Regions from separate parts of the Homo sapiens genome. Here region 2 is linked to region 1. Evidence: fine-mapped expression QTL. Tissue or cell type: whole blood. Region 1 holds a variant in brackets; the other region holds the start of a gene. All regions are shown on one strand. Distances are between the middles of the regions.

Region 1 (5,148 bases):
GGGATGCTGGGCAGCACTGAGCAGCTGTCCTCCTGGGAGACGCCTCAGTGTTTCCTGCACTGGTCTGATTCATGGGAACTTAGGCAGAAGAGCATCCCATAAATCAAGTGTGTTTGGGGATTTCTGAGGACAAGGGAAATGGAAACCTTCACCTTATATAAAGGTGGACTTTGCAGTATTAGAAAGATAACCAGAAAGGTCACATATACCATTCCTCCTCACTCCACCCTCAGCAGGAGAATGGAAGCACAAATGCATACACACACATATACAGACAAATACACACATGCAGGCATATACACCATGCACCTACTCACAAATACATGCACATAAACTCACATATACACAATATACACACATACAATCACACAGTTACTCCCACACAAAAAAAGGCACATCTCTCTTCCTTCAAAACAATTTAATGTTTTGGGGAAAACTATTCTGAAATCAGAAATTCCCTGGCCTGTATCCTCACCATTAAGGGGGTCAGAATTGCCACACTGGGTCAGCTTCTTGGCTTTACCCAGGCCAAATTTCTGTCTCTGCTGGAAGTCCCAGGGAAGTGTTTAATGGAAAGATGGGGACGTTTTTCCTGATATCAAATTCTGAGTGTTCCCAATGTGAATGTATTAAGTTTCCCTTCATACGCTCCAATCTGGGTCTGTCATCCTTCTCTTAAATCTAGTTATAATTTCAGCTGCCAGTTTATTTCCCAAAGTGAAAGTAGCAAACAGGACTTTAATGAATCAATCAGCAAGCGCTGTTGTGCAAACAGGAGCTGGGTAAGAAATGGATATTGTACTGGGAAGCAGCAGTCCTGGTTCCCGGGTCTCCTGCACCACTAACTGGCTGAGAACCCAGGAGTCACGACCTCTGGAGGTCTTGGTGTCTGCATCTGCACATGTGAAAAATATTAATACTTCCCTGCCTGAAGATGGGCCTGAAGGTTGTCCCTGAGGCTGAACCGTCTGCCTAGCACTGTGTTCAATGCTGAGGAGCTTGTGAGTCTCAGCTCCTCCCCTTGAAGCTCTGAATCTTTCTGTGCTTATTCATAAAGTGTCAGGGGTGAGCATGGACCTTCCTCTTCTAACTCTTGAGGCGAGTTTTTGGTGTAAGGGACTCAGGTTCTCGAATCAACCTTACAGCAAACACTACTGGGGACTTCACAACTGTGCTGCTCCCCTTTCTTGCCAACAGAATTAGGTGACCTTGTGCTTCAGGGAGAATGGGTCCCTCATCTGCCCCAGGGAAAGGAGCTCAATCCGTCCAGCAAATCAATGTTGATTTTGTTCCCTTGGATACTTGAGTGGGCATGTGACACAGATCTGGTCAAGGAGGCTTGAAGGAAACTCCACTGCAGAAAGGAGACTTCTGGAAAGGCTGTGCTCATTCTTAGCAAGGGACACGTGAAAGGGAAGCTCTCTCTCTCTCTCTCTCTCTCTCTCTGACCCTTGGATATTTCTGTGTGAGGATGTGATGGCTGGAGCTGCTGACGCTATTTTGTCCCTCTAAGGGGAGGAAATGAAGTGCTGGCCATGGCAGGTGGAAAAACATCTGAGTCCTCAAGGACATCATTGAGCTTCAGAATTGTCCAAACTTGCAATTACTCTGTTTTCAGACTTTTTTCTGCAGGAGATAATATATGTCCTTATTGTTGAGCCACTTTCTGATGGATTTTCTTTTCCCCACAGCCAATAGCATCTTAACTGTATTGGTCAGGTTAAGTTAGGTCGTGCATGATGACAACCATGCTCACACCCCAGGGGTTTTATACAAGTTAATTTCTCACTCAGGTGCCATGCCCCTTGGGGATTGGCAGGGGAGCTCTGCCCATCTCAGCTGCTCAGGGATCTGGCTATGGGAGGCTGGGAAGAGAGTCTTGGGAATGGCACACTGGCCCTAGAAGCTTTCTCCCTGAGTGACACGTGTCACTCCCCACACATTTCACTAGTTAAAGCAAGTCAAACAGATATGCCATATTTCAAAAGTGTGCCACCTGCCCAGAGAGTGAAAGCTGGAATGATGTTGGGGAAGACACTAATTCTACCACAGTAACTGACATAAACTCTAAAAACAGGAAGTCATATGGTGCCAGACCAACAATTTAACTTCCTTGAACTTTGGTTTCTTCATCTATAAAATTTAATTTCTTTGAATGCTTCCTGTTTTTCCACTGTGGTGAGGTTACAATGAGTAATACATATGAAGGTGTTTTTAAAAACAGAATAAAGCCTATGGGAGCGAGTGGCCGAGGAGGTGTTCGTGCCATCTCAGCACAGATCACCAGATATCTCCATCAATGCTTCGATCAGATGTGCAACTTTCTCAGTCTCTGCCACACGTCTGCAGCCAGGCCACTTTGGAGACACTGGATATGTTCTATTTCCAGGATAAAACAGAGAAAGATGTTTATTCTGGAGGTGGAG[G/A]TAGAGGTGGGAGACGGTGGGAGACAGGAAATGGGGTAGGAATTATTCTCCCTATGGCACTTCTGAGAGGCTGGAACAGTCAGCTCAGGCTGCCATAACAAAAGACCACAGACGAGTTGGCTGAGATATCAAGAATTCACTTCCTCTCAGTTCTAGAGGCTGGAAGTTCCAAAATGAAAGTGTTGGCAGGTAGCTTTCTTCTGAGGCCTCTCTCCTTGGCTTGCAAGCGGCTGCCTTCCTACTGCCCTTGCGGGGCCGGCCCTCTCTCCACTCACATGGTAGGGTCTCTTTTTGTGTCCCAATTTCCTTTTCTTATGAGGACACCAGTTAGACTGCACTAGGGGCGTCCTTAACTGCCTCATTTAACTTAATCACCCCTTTGAAGACCCTGTCTCCAAATACAGTTCCATTCTGAGGTCCTGGGGTTAGGACTCCGACATCTGAGATTTGGGGTTGGGAGACGCGACTCAGCCCATAACACAGGCTGTTCTTTTCCTCTCAGTGAGAAGATGTCCACAGGAAAACACATGCTAACTTCCACTGCAAGTGAGAGAGAAGGAGCAGATCAGGGAGAAGGGAAGGAAGAGAAGAAGGAAAAAGGAAAGATCCCTGGGAGGGGCAGGGATGAGGCACACAGCCATCCGCAGAGGGCTTCAGTGGGTGTGGGCATCACTCAGCTCTAAGGGCCCACCCACCCGGACATCAGGGCCAAATCTACAGACAACAACAGACACAGAAGCAAAGAGAGTCCACTGAAGCCACTTCAGGCCAAGGTATGGTGCCAGCTTGCTGTGTGCAGAGGGATTGGTGGTAATGAAAGCCAGTGCCGGAAGGAGGAGCCAAGATGGCCGAGTAGGAACAGCTCCGGTCTACAGCTCCCAGCGTGAGCGACGCAGAAGACGGGTGATTTCTGCATTTCCATCTGAGGTACCGGGTTCATCTCACTAGGGAGTGCCAGACAGTGGGCTCAGGCCAGTGTGTGCGCGCACCGTGCGCGAGCCAAAGCAGGGCAAGGCATTGCCTCACCTGGGAAGCGCAAGGGGTCAGGGAGTTCCCTTTCCGAGTCAAAGAAAGGGGTGACGGATGCACCTGGAAAATCGGGTCACTCCCACCCGAATATTGCGCTTTTCAGACCGGCTTAAAAAACGGCGCACCATGAGACTATATCCCACACCTGGCTCAGAGGGTCCTACACCCACGGAATCTCGCTGATTGCTAGCACAGCAGTCTGAGATCAAACTGCAAGGCGGCAAAGAGGCTGGGGGAGGGGCGCCCGCCATTGCCCAGGCTTGTTTAGGTAAACAAAGCAGCCGGGAAGCTCGAACTGGGTGGAGCCCACCACAGCTCAAGGAGGCCTGCCTGCCTCTGTAGGCTGCACCTCTAGGGGCAGGGCACAGACAAACAAAAAGACAGCAGTAACCTCTGCAGACTTAAGTGTCCCTGTCTGACAGCTTTGAAGAGAGCAGTGGTTCTCCCAGCACGCAGCTGGAGATCTGAGAATGGGCAGACTGCCTCCTCAAGTGGGTCCCTGACCCCTGACCCCCGAGCAGCCTAACTGGGAGGCACCCCCAAGCAGAGGCATACTGACACCTCACACGGCAGGGTATTCCAACAGACCTGCAGCTGAGGGTCCTGTCTGTTAGAAGGAAAACTAACAACCAGAAAGGACATCTACGCCAAAAACCTATCTGTACATCACCATCATCAAAGACCAAAAGTAGATAAAACCACAAAGATGGGGAAAAAACAGAACAGAAAAACTGGAAACTCTAAAACGCAGAGCGCCTCTCCTCCTCCAAAGGAACGCAGTTCCTCACCAGCAACGGAACAAAGCTGGATGGAGAATGATTTTGACGAGCTGAGAGAAGAAGGCTTCAGACGATCAAATTACTCTGAGCTACGGGAGGACATTCAAACCAAAGGCAAAGAAGTTGAAAACTTTGAAAAAAATTTAGAAGAATGTATAACTAGAATAACCAATACAGAGAAGTGCTTAAAGGAGCTGATGGAGCTGAAAACCAAGGCTCGAGAACTACGTGAAGAATGCAGAAGCCTCAGGAGCCGATGCGATCAACTGGAAGAAAGGGTATCAGCAATGGAAGATGAAATGAATGAAATGAAGCGAGAAGGGAAGTTTAGAGAAAAAAGAATAAAAAGAAATGAGCAAAGCCTCCAAGAAATATGGGACTATGTGAAAAGACCAAATCTACGTCTGATTGGTGTACCTGAAAGTGATGTGGAGAATGGAACCAAGTTGGAAAACACTCTGCGGGATATTATCCAGGAGAACTTCCCCAATCTAGCAAGGCAGGCCAACGTTCAGATTCAGGAAATACAGAGAACGCCACAAAGATACTCCTCGAGAAGAGCAACTCCAAGACACATAATTGTCAGATTCACCAAAGTTGAAATGAAGGAAAAAATGTTAAGGGCAGCCAGAGAGAAAGGTCGGGTTACCCTCAAAGGAAAGCCCATCAGACTAACAGCGGATCTCTCGGCAGAAACCCTACAAGCCAGAAGAGAGTGGGGGCCAATATTCAACATTCTTAAAGAAAAGAATTTTCAACCAGAATTTCATATCCAGCCAAACTTAGCCTTGTAAGTGAAGGAGAAATAAAATACTTTATAGACAAGCAAATGCTGAGAGATTTTGTCACCACCAGGCCTGCCCTAAAAGAGCTCCTGAAGGAAGCGCTAAACATGGAAAGGGACAACCGGTACC
Region 2 (5,148 bases), 40 kb before region 1:
CCTTAATTCTAGTGCAGATAATGGAATGAAGGAGGCTTGTTCTAATGAGGGAGGCTGGAGGTGATGGCAGGAAAGAGGGATGCAAGTTGCACTGTGCTTCTAGAGGGTACAGTGTGAAATTTACACTCCTCATCCTTTTTTTAAGATTAATTTTAGAAAAAATGAAGGTTATATTCCAAAAGTTTCCCAAACTCACTTCTAAAATTTTCTTCAGCATGTGTTGAAAACTTTCCTAGTCCAGTATCCTTGGGTAATAATAATAAAAAAAAACTAGTTTAATACTTTATAATCAGGGAAAAACAGCATTTTATATTTCAATACCAACAATAGAGAAAAATAAATGAGGAAAATGACATTAGAAATATTTTTCAGTGCTGTTTTTCATGAACCATATGTGGGAATTTTAAGATAATGTATTTTCAAAAGAAAATAAAACTATATATGGCCTAAATAAATAAATCTTCAGCAGACAAAAAATAAGTAATGTGCAGAGCCGGCCCTGAGGGGTCACTGTGTTACCAGAGCCTCACAGTGATTACCTGCATAATGGCACTCTTCTAGAAAGTTTCATATGTTCCACAATCTTTGTATTAGAAGGCAGGATGTTGTGAATGCATATAAGAAAATGTTTCTTTCATCCAAATTGGAGTAGTTTTGGTTTTTTGGTGAGATACTTTAAACATTTTATTTATTTATTTATTGGTGGAGATAGGGTCTCACTATGTTGCCCAGGTTGGTCTCAAATTCCTGGGCTCAAGGAATCCTCCTGCACTGGCTTAGTTACATTTTTAATTGGTGACACACACAACCCAGGTCAGAAATCTAGGGTTCACTATTAACTCCTGCGTCTTCCTCCCCAGCCCTGTCCTGCCATTGCAGTCCAATTGATCTGATTTCCGGTGTTTCTCCAGAGCATTCCTTTATTTTCCTGCCTTCCATCCACTGCCCCTCATCATCTCTTGCTGCCAAGTTCCTCTCTGTCCTCAGCTTCTCTCTCCAGCCATCCCTATGTAGGACAAAGAGCAACCTCACATGCACATTAGTGCCTTTCAGCCCCACATCGGCCCCTTCCTGCTTCCCCACTGACCTCAGGATGAAGTCAAATTTTTTGGTTCCAGCCTCAGTCCCCACTGGTCTTTCCGTCCCAATTTTGGCCAAACAGTATGGAAGTATTTATATTTCTCTGAATATTTCTTGTGAATACAATACAAACATGTGGCGCCCACCCCGCCCCAGGCACTAACTTCTTTCTCTAACGGACTCCCTTTATCCTTTAAACTTTGGAAGAGGTGTCAGCTCTGCCCTCCAGGGCTCTACACCTGGTTAGATCTGTCCATCATGTCCTGTGGAAGTCTCAGTCACAACATGGAAATTGTCAGTTCATGGGCAGCTTACCCTGTCCCCTGTCCCCTCGTGCCAGAAGCCAGAGGCCAGAGGCTATGTTTATTCAAGCCTGTTTCCTCAGTGCTGAGTGCAGTGCCCTGCTGGAAATAGGTGCTGAGTATGCTTGATCAGCTGACTTTGCTTGAACATCTTCAGTCTCTTAAACAGTCATGTATCCAGAATGTTGCATTCTGAGAAGTTCTAAATAGCCAATGATTATTATAGCCATTAGCACTCACACCTTTCTCTGTTATTACACTGTAAATTCCTAGAGGCAGAGCCCCAGACGCTTCATCTTTGTGCGCTGAAAATTCCAGGCAGGGACCTGGGCAGACAGGTGTGGGATGAGAAGGACACTCTGGCCAGGAGATAAAGCCACCAATTTTCCTGCATAGACAACTTCCAGCAAAGCCTGGGAGTGGAAATGACTGATCAACTTGGAAGATGATCCCAAGAGAACGTTCTAGACTAGGAAATCAGAGCTCATTTGTGGAATGCAAGCCCACCCATGACTTCAAATGCTACAAATTCTAGAAGATTTTAAAAATGCATCACCTGTTGAATGCTGAGTGAGAAAATAAAGACAACAGAGTTGACTGAATATTACAGACCTGAGTTTAACCTAAGACAAACTAATTATGAAGCTATGAACATATTTCAGTCAACATGAAATACAGAATATGTTTCCTGACCAGCACATCAGTTATAACAGAAATCCCCTTAAAGAATTTTAAAGAAGCTGTGTTTTGAAAACTGTCATGCTTGGCTTCAGTTTTGTGGTCCCCTTTCAGTGCCCCTGTTTTGCGTTTTCATTGTATCACCCAACCTGTGTGTCAGAATAAGACATTCATTAAAAAAAGGGGACATTTAATAAGCATTGGCATTTTTTCAAGGGAAAATATTTAAATATGATTAAAACAATAGTGAAGCTAAGAAAAACCTGACTATATGCTAAAAATACAGCATCTATTATTAGCATTCCAGAAATTCCAAATTGAAGCACTCCAGACAGTATTAGTGATGATTACGTGCAAAATGCAGCAATAAGCCAAACCTAGACTTTCTATTGACTTGTCTATTTTCGTATCTCGCTAGCAGAAAGACTACATTTCTGGTCATTTCCATTATTGGGGAATCGTACTTTACCATTGATTTCGAAAGGCTCCATTGCAATTTGGTGAAAAGCAGCTTGTTGGGTCTCACTCAAGAGCTCGTCCTCCTTGAGAATTTTCTTATTTCTCATTGCCAAGCTTTATAGATGGCCAAAGTCCTGGAGCCAGCAGAAATGCTCCCCTCAAGAGGAACCACTTGGAGAAAGATCCTTCCCATCGAACCACTGCAGCTGGTTGTAAACCTCGCAGCACTTCCCTTTGGCTCTGATTTCAGAATTTGCAGGATGTTTCCTGACATGATCAGGATTGGACATTTCTCAAACACGGGCTATTCACATGTGGATCTCCCACACAGTGCTGCTGCTTGTTAAGGGGGATCGAGGAGGCTTTGGGACACAAGTTACGGGCCTCTGAATGCACCCGTCACTCCCAGGTCCCTGAGACCCAAAAGCTGGATGGCTCCAGAGAGGGCCAACCAAGCCCTGCCATGGGCCCAGACTCAGCTCTCTGTCCCAGGACCTCTCCAGCCCACAGTGAAATCTCCCTTCTCTGACCTGCCTCAACCTTTAGAGTTCATCCTTGCTGCTCAAAGTGTGGTCCATGGACCAGCAGTATTAGTATCACCTGAGAACTTGTTAGAAATGCAAGTTCACTTGTTCTAACAATGAGTCTCTGGTCCCACCCCATCAGATCAAATCCAAATCTACAGTTTAACTAGATCCCCAGGTGATTTATATACACATTACAGTTTGAGAAGCCTTGCTCTGAACCACACATTTTAGCACTTAGTATTTCTTCTTGTAGTTTTCCCATGTTCTCTCTCTGTGTGTGTACACATGTGTGCACATGTGTACATGTGTTACAGGTGTCCTTGTCCAGGCCCCAGTGAGATCTGAGCTCCTTAAGGAAAGTAGCTTCTCCCCTCTCTCCCTCCCGTCAGGCATCTCTACCAGGGATGCTGTATAGCATGGTGGTTAAGACACAGACACTAAGAGCTAGAATGCCTGGCTTCAAATTCCACCTCTTCCACATAGGGGCTGTCTGGCAGTAGGCAAATCACTTGAGCTTTGAGCATCTCACTCTTCTGTTTGTATAAATAAGGAAGATATGAATTTCGTGAGCCTTAAATGAATTAAATCATATAAGGTGGCTAGGATGGAAGTATTAGGTAATAAACACTATGGTCATGTTGTTGTTATTATCATTAGAGACATTGTGAGCCTGCTGGGCACCGAGGAGATGAAGAAATGGCCTTTTTTCATGAAAGATATTCACAGTCTACCATGCAAGATGGTTGCGGCTACAACTACATTCCAGAAAATTGCTGTGAAGTGCGGCAAAGGTTGATGTCCCTGAAAAGACAGAAGTGCCGGGAGGCAGGGGAGACAGGGCAGAAATATGACAAATAGCTTTATCATCTGAATCAAGAGATATCAGATACCAGAGCTGGGCTTAAAAGGATAATGGGGGATTGATCCAGATCAAGATGAGGCAAAGGCCCTCCAGGGAGGAAGGAGGGCAGGTGCAGCCTCTCAGAGGTGGGACAGCCTGGAGCAGGGGAGCCGTAGACTTTTGGCCTATTTGAAATGTAAGAGGTGAGGAAGACAGGTGGCAGGAAGTGAAGCTGTGCCAGGCGAAGTCACTTTCTTTGGCCCGTGGTATGTCAGAAAGTGAAAGGGGATGAAACTCAGGAAAGTGAGCTCCTAGCAGTGCCCTGAAAAGCAGAGGTCCCCCGTGGCGCCCACAATTTCAACATTCAGGAAGTCACTGGTTCCGCCAGAGGACAAGCAGCAGAAGCCAGGACAGAAAAATTTAAAGAGGAAAATTGGAAATGAGGAAGTGATGGCTCCAGCTAGAGTCTGGGGGGTAGACAGGACCAGATAATTGAGGACACAGGGGATTTGCCCACTGGAGGGCAGTCCCCTAGGCAAAGGAACCCGCTCACTTAGCCTGGCAGAGCTCCCTGCTCTCCCTCTGCCTCTGCCTGGTCAGCTCATCTTTGATTCTCATGGGTGTGGGGAGGGGACTTATTAGAAAATGTCATGGGCTAATTATTGAGGATCCCTGTTCTTAAAGGAAGCACTTAGTGGATGTCAAGTGTAGTCACTTCACCTCTGGCTAGAGACCAGAGAGACTTGGGTCCCAAATTCAACTCTTTCATTAACTTTCTGTGTGACCTTGGTTGACTTACTTCTCTGAACTTCCACACAGAGTAATGGCTTGTGCAAGCATTAATTCCTATCCAGGATTTACTGTTAATGCCAGACACTGTGCTAAACATTTGCATACATTGCTCAACACTCATAACTTGCAACTTGCCTTAAATTGTGTGGTTATAAAGAGCTACACCAGAATTTGAATCCAGACTCTCTGCCTCAATCTATAGACTGATTTAATTCTGGTTTAATCCAGGGGTTCCAATCCAGAGGTTTGCAGTAGAGGAATGCCAGTTTCCCATCCCAAACCTGAGGCTCTGGTTTTAATAAAAATTTCAGAAAGAGCTCTAATGTGCACCAGGCTTAGGACCACCGAGTGGTATAATTGAAGCACTCATGTGCAGTGTGGCCTCCTGACTCCATCCTAGGAGGATCCATTAGGTTGAATCATATGGAATGACAGATATTTATCTGTTTTTCATATGCAATAAATGGAT

What was found. PIP is the estimated chance that this variant, and not a neighbour inherited with it, causes the effect.
Region 2: MARCO starts here. The variant in region 1 is fine-mapped to the expression of MARCO in whole blood (TOPMed, PIP above 0.99).

Annotation. Positions count from the first base shown.
Region 1 is chr2:118,899,900-118,905,047 of GRCh38, reverse strand. No RefSeq gene overlaps it. Among named protein-coding and RNA genes, the nearest start is that of MARCO, 40 kb to the left of the region's middle. The variant G/A (reference allele first, on the strand shown) is at 2,427.
Region 2 is chr2:118,939,779-118,944,926 of GRCh38, reverse strand. It overlaps MARCO (macrophage receptor with collagenous structure), which reads right to left and starts at 2,733. Exons shown (of 17, transcript NM_006770.4): 1 at 2,530-2,733. The coding sequence starts at 2,626.